2 separate regions of the Homo sapiens genome follow, and region 1 is linked to region 2. Evidence: fine-mapped expression QTL. A gene starts in region 2. The other region holds a variant in brackets. All regions are shown on one strand. Distances are between the middles of the regions.

Region 1 (2,905 bases), 83 kb after region 2:
CAAAGTTAAGAGGAGAAAGCAGAAAAGGAGATTGAGAAGGAAGAATTTTAGAGCTAGGAGAAAATAGGGGAGAATTTAATGTCATGGAAGCTAAAGGGCAAGATAATTGAGTGGGTAGTTGTCCCAAATACTTTAAAAAAAAAAAAAAAACTGTTCAATCAAGAGAAATGGAAAGATTCTGTGGTCTTTGGCGATCTTAGCAAGAGCAGTTTCTGTGGAGTAAAGGGGCAGAGCCTAACAAGGGGTTATGGGAGGAGTGAGAGGTGAGAAAATGGAAACAATGGCTATGAGTATAAACGACCAGTTAAGTTTAGTTGTAAAAGGAAGATGGGAAAAGAGCATGGTATCTGGAAGAGTTCACAGGGTTTTGAAAATGGTGATTTTTCTTTGTTTTTAATATCAGAGATGCTTGAGCATGTTTCAGTGCTGGTGGTGGAACCAGTAAAGAGGGAGAGGTTGAAAATAAAAATGAGAAAAGGCATACTCAGCACAAAATTACTGAGAACGCAAGAGGGAATGGTCTAGAGCATAGATGAAAGAATGCTCCCTCCATTGACACTGAATGTGGGGGAAGTGGGGCGAGGGTGTGTGCAATTTAGTTAGAGGAAGGTAAAGGAAGTCCCTTAATCATGGCTTTGCTTTTCTTCCGAGCTCTGTGAGGTAGAAGGTGAAGTATACTGCTGAGACGGAAGGGGATATTGGGAAAGTCAGAGGTTTGAAGAGAGTGAGGGAGTTTAACAATCTCTGTGGGAGAGAGAGAGAAAAGATTGTGATAAGGTTGCTAGACAGTGCCTGGGATCCAAGTAGAGATGGTGATTGTGACCACTCTGTAGAGCTGGGCCCTATTTCTCCAGCAGCGCTCATGATTCCAAATGCAAGTCTGGGGCAAGCAGATAGTGAGTCAAGAGATGGGATTTTGCTTGGCAGATGTTATGGGAAGACAGTAGAATAAGAGAAATTCAGACATTAGTAAAAGTGATATATCACTTTTACTTACAGGGATATAAGCCTGATACAGAATTGGCTACTTAGAAGGGATATGGTTAATAGGAGGAAGAAAGTAGAGGAATTGCTAGAGTCAAAGTCTGGCTGAGTTAAGGAGCAGTAGCGGGAGTACTGTGAAGATGATACTCCTCCATCTCTGAATTTGTCTGGATGTGAAAGGCGAAGGTGTAAGTGTAAGTTCTTTAGAGAGAAGCTGGGGAATGGGGAGGCCAGGTTCTTAACAGGTGATCTGCTTAAACACTGAAGTCACCACAGCACTTCTCAGACTTGAATATGCATGTGAATCACCTGGGAGGTCTAGTTAAACTACAGATTCTCATTTATTCAGTCTGAGGCAGATGAGCATTTCTAGCAAGCTCTCTGTTGGTGGTACTGCTGCTTGTCCACACACCAGACTTCGAGTAGTAGTAAGAACCAAGAATGAAGTCAGAAGGGCTTTGGGGGTGGAATGTGCATGGCAGATGTGCTTGATAGCAATAACTGAAGCATACCTTGAGAATGACCCTGCTTGCAGACAACACCTGC[A/G]TGCGGTTGGGAGTTCTGAGCTAGGGAATAGGGTGGCTAACCCAAAGATCCATTCCCTATCTATAAGGAACATCTGTGCCCCTAACCCATTGTGAAGTGAATGCAGGCCAGACAGGGGATTGAGGCCCTTTGTTTTGGGTTAAATGAAGGTTGCCAGGTGGAGGTTGTTAGGGGGAAGAGTGCTAAGTGAAAATACGATATAAACTGTATACTTTTTGCAAGCAGTTGCCATTTTTCTGCCCAGCCTGCTGCCACTGGGCCGTGCAGTTATCCTGTCCAGCCCACCACCATTGGACTGTATGTAAGGTGCTTCTCCTGCCTAGCTTGCCACCACTGGGCTTGCTCCCCTTTATGTAGCCCCCAACAAAACGCCTTGTCTTGTTTGCTGGCTCTGGGTCTCTTCTTTGGCTTCTTGAACTTGGTGCCATCCCCACTGGAGTTGATAGGGGCTCAGCACAACAGAAGGAAGGCTATGAACTGGGTGCCAGAGACAACAGTGGCTTACAGGCTTGTACCCTGGAGATTGGCCTAAGATAGTGATAAGGAGAGACAGCGTGAATGGCATGGTTGAGTCTCACAAGAGTGCAAGGGAGTAATTTTGCAATAGCACTAGGAAGTGAAGGAATCAGTGACTCCATGTCCTTTTATGCCTATGGAGATTGTGCAAGAGAAAGCAATTTCTACTTTTGGTCTGGAAAGGAGAGCAGTCTCCATACAGGAGAGCTGGGTTTCAGTTAAAGCATAAGTTGTTGTAGAGAATATTCAGTAAAGAGGAGTTTGCAAATCATGGAATCGAATTTAGGAGAGAGTCAGGAATTTGGGGGATTTGTGATGAGTGTATAGGGGAATATGGGTAAACTAAGTTTATAGTTTGGACAGGAAATGAGGACAGTAGAGATGAATTCAGCTGGGATCCTGGAGGTTGGTGAGCAATCAGAGAACTTAAAATTCAGCTGCTTTCTGTGGGGCAAGTCTAATAATCTGGTGTTAAGAGGAAGGCTTGCGAGCTTTCAGTTTTAGTAGTCTAATAAGCTGAAGTGGGCACCAGGTTGCTCTGCACTGGTAAATAAATGATGACTAGATTCTCTAGTTAGAAGGTATACTGTAAAACATTACCTGTTTGGTGGTATGTTCCCTGCAGAATTTGGAACAGTTAAAGGCAGAAATATAAGTGGAAAGTAAAAACTACCCAGTGTTTACTTTTGCCTCTAAATGATACCAGATGTATAAGGCATATGTGTGAGTTAGGGCTCTCTAAGGTAGAGATAGATGACCGTGATAATTTTGATCATAGATATTTCATTGAAGTATCAAGAACCTACTTGTTTCAATAAAATTGCTATAGAATAAACCAGAAAACTAAAAACTACTTGAA
Region 2 (2,905 bases):
TATGATCCTAGAGAATGTTTTCAGTAGGCTGGGGTCCACAGACCAGTTTGAAAAGCACAAATATAAAGAACTAAAGAGCAATTGTATAAAATTATGCAAATGATCAAGTTGAAAGACAAATTTCATCTTTATAACTGGTAAAATAACTCGTATTTTGCCATAGAACTCTGATTCTTATCTTCAGATCTATGATCCGTTTAAGAAACACTAAGGCAAAGCTGAAACCTTGGAAAATGTTCCTGCATCACCCCAAGGTAATACATTTTTATTTTTTCTGATTTGGTGTCTAACAACTTTCTGCCTTGGAGTAGCTAGTAATATGTAGCATTTTCCTAGAAAACATAAGCTCTTTGAAGACAGGGACCACATTTTATTTATTTTTTATATGCACCACACCTAATACACAGTACATCCTCAGCAAGTACTGGCTGTAAAGCCTATATTCCATGCTCTTATTTTGTAGTCCAAATCACTTTAAAAATCACACTTCTTCTATTGTTCATACTCATAGAAGAGCATATTACTCAAATAGCTCTGCTATAAATTAACAGTAAGTTTCAGAAGTTATACCAAGTCACGAGACTCAGATTTTTAAAAAGTGCCACAAAGTGTCTCTTCTGTGTCAATGTTAATAGAACCCTTTCTTTAAATGATCAGTAGGCAAATTAAGAATTTCCGGATAAAGAACAAACTCTGGAAAAACAAAGCTAGTGGGAGAGGCCCTGTAAATACCTACCTAGTCTTACAAGGGCTGTCTCTAACTCAGCTTGTATTTTAGGCAGCGTCTTCAGTTTTTCAACTAATGTGTTTGAGAAAACTGTTTTCCTCGGACATGCAGGCGTGGACTCCTTACTTCAGGTAAGGTGACAGCAGCTTGACAGAGAGTGCCTTCCCTCCCACGGCATTTGGGACGAGGCTGAAGGAAAGACACAGGCGGGGTTACGGGAAACCCATTCTCTGCGCCATCTGGGCAAGCTGAAGTCAGTTTTTCCGCTTTCTCACGAGGTAATGGATTATCATGGGCTCAGGTCCCCTTCAGCTCTGAAACAGGTATTCTATGGCTCTAAGTAAACACGGCAAGAGACAGGTTATTTCTTTGGTAAGATCAGTTGTATTTCCCAGAGAATAAAACGGGCAACAAACCATTTATCGATATGTGAGTCTTCCCCCTAGGCCCTAGCTATTTGGGGTTGGATAAAGAAAAAGAGGGTTTGCTTCCTTTTTGGCGGGTCCTCCAATGACAGGGCTCCTGGCCCGCTGCGGGTCCAACTCCCACCTCTCGTGGCTCCCCCGAGGCCGAGCGAGGCTCCGTGCGAGGACAGCCCCTCAACCGCACTCCCCAGAGGGAGCGCTGGGACTCGCGGAGGAGATTAGTCCCCGGTCATAAACAACCTCTCACTTCCCCTCCCCCGCCCGCGCCCGCTCGCGCCGGGGCGGCGCGCCGGGGCGGCCCTCCGAGGCCCAGGAACCTCCTCCGGCGCCCGCGAGGCCCCGAGTCCTCCTCCGGAGGGCGGCTGCGGGCCTGCCCTCTTCTCCTAACCAGGTGTTTGTCCACTTTACTCAACCCTTCTTACTCGTCCACGCTACGGCCACCTCACAGGGGCGGCTGACGCCAGCCCCTTTTTCCCTCCCCTCGACCCCTATCACCTCCAACAGCCAAGGAGAGGCCGGCGGCCCTGACGCGCAGGCTCACCGCCGCGGCCGCCCCGCGCGCGCGGACGCGGCCCCCGCCCCCACCTCGCGGTCCTTCCGCAGTCCGGCCCCGCCCCTTCCCGAAGCCCGCCTCCGGGTCGGCCCGCCCGCCCGCTCGCGCGCACCCGACGCCCCGCCTCTGCGCGTGCTCAATAACTGTCCCCGGAGCCGGCCTACAAGCTTCCCCCGCCCCTGAGCTGTTTAAATATGCTAATGAAAGGATAGGGCCTGACCAGTAGAACGGCGAGGCGGTGTATCACGTGGCTCGGGGACGTGTCAGGGGCGGAGCCTCCGCAGCCCCTGCCCGAGTTAAAACCGGAGTGTGAGAGAGAAAAGCGCTTCAGTAGCGAGAGGGGCTGAGAAAGTGGTGACACCGCCGGGGTGCGGAGGGAGTCCCTGAAACTTCTCCCAACAGCCCCAGGGCCAATCTTCCCTCAGCCCACTCCCCTCTTCGCCAGCTCCCAGGTCCCCACTCCTGTACCGGGGGTGGGGTGGGGAGCCAGGCCCGTCTCCCGCTGGGACACACACAGGGGCCGGGAGCGGGGACGGGACCCCCGAGGCGGGGGGGACGAACCGACAGACAGACGGCTGGGCGCCCGCCCCAGCGGGCAGGCAGGCAGGAGGAGGCGGAGGCGGGGGTACGACGGGGAGCACTGGGTCTGGGGAGTTTCCTCTCAACTATCGGGGGAGAAACTCCCCGCAGCCGGAGGAAAGACCCAGACAGTGTTTTCCTCCCGGGGGCCGTGCTCCCCCGCCCCGCGTAGCGGCGGTCGCCGCCACCGGCGCCTCCACCTCTACCATCTCCTCTTTCTCCACCACCTCGGGCCCCGGTGTCCCCGGCCAGCACTATGCCCATCTTACTGTTCCTGATAGACACGTCTGCCTCTATGAACCAGCGCAGCCATCTGGGCACCACCTACCTGGACACGGCCAAAGGCGCGGTAGAGACCTTCATGAAGGTACCGACTGACCGAGCCCGGGCGGCGACCCCGGCCCGGCGGCCCGCGGGCGGCAGGGTGGGGGAGGGCGGCCGGGGCGGGGGTGTCGGGGACCTGACTGCGGGAGCTGCCGGGCTCGGGGACCCCCTCCCCCACCGCGCGGGCGGGCGGGCGCTGCGAGCCGGGTTCGGCCGGGGCCCGGGCTCCGGCCCCGGGCGGTGTGTGGGGAGCGATCTGTGTGTGGGGGACGGCGTGGAGGGGTGGCCGCTGCGTGT

What was found. PIP is the estimated chance that this variant, and not a neighbour inherited with it, causes the effect.
Region 1: its variant is fine-mapped to the expression of INTS6-AS1 in whole blood (INTERVAL, PIP above 0.99). The same link has a PIP of 0.9 or more in lymphoblastoid cells.

The regions. Positions count from the first base shown.
Region 1 is chr13:51,369,551-51,372,455 of GRCh38, reverse strand. The region is part of intron 15 of INTS6 (integrator complex subunit 6); the gene reads left to right. Among named protein-coding and RNA genes, the nearest start is that of MIR5693, 22 kb to the right of the region's middle. RefSeq lists an enhancer at 1,276-1,775. The variant A/G (reference allele first, on the strand shown) is at 1,531.
Region 2 is chr13:51,452,161-51,455,065 of GRCh38, reverse strand. It overlaps INTS6-AS1 (INTS6 antisense RNA 1), which reads right to left and starts at 1,721. Exons shown (of 2, transcript NR_103812.1): 1 at 1,648-1,721; 2 at 350-1,063. It overlaps INTS6 (integrator complex subunit 6), which reads left to right and starts at 2,030. Exons shown (of 18, transcript NM_012141.3): 1 at 2,030-2,651. The coding sequence starts at 2,541. RefSeq lists silencers at 1,265-1,584, 1,675-1,874, 2,105-2,364, 2,605-2,874, 2,885-2,905 and an enhancer at 1,995-2,044.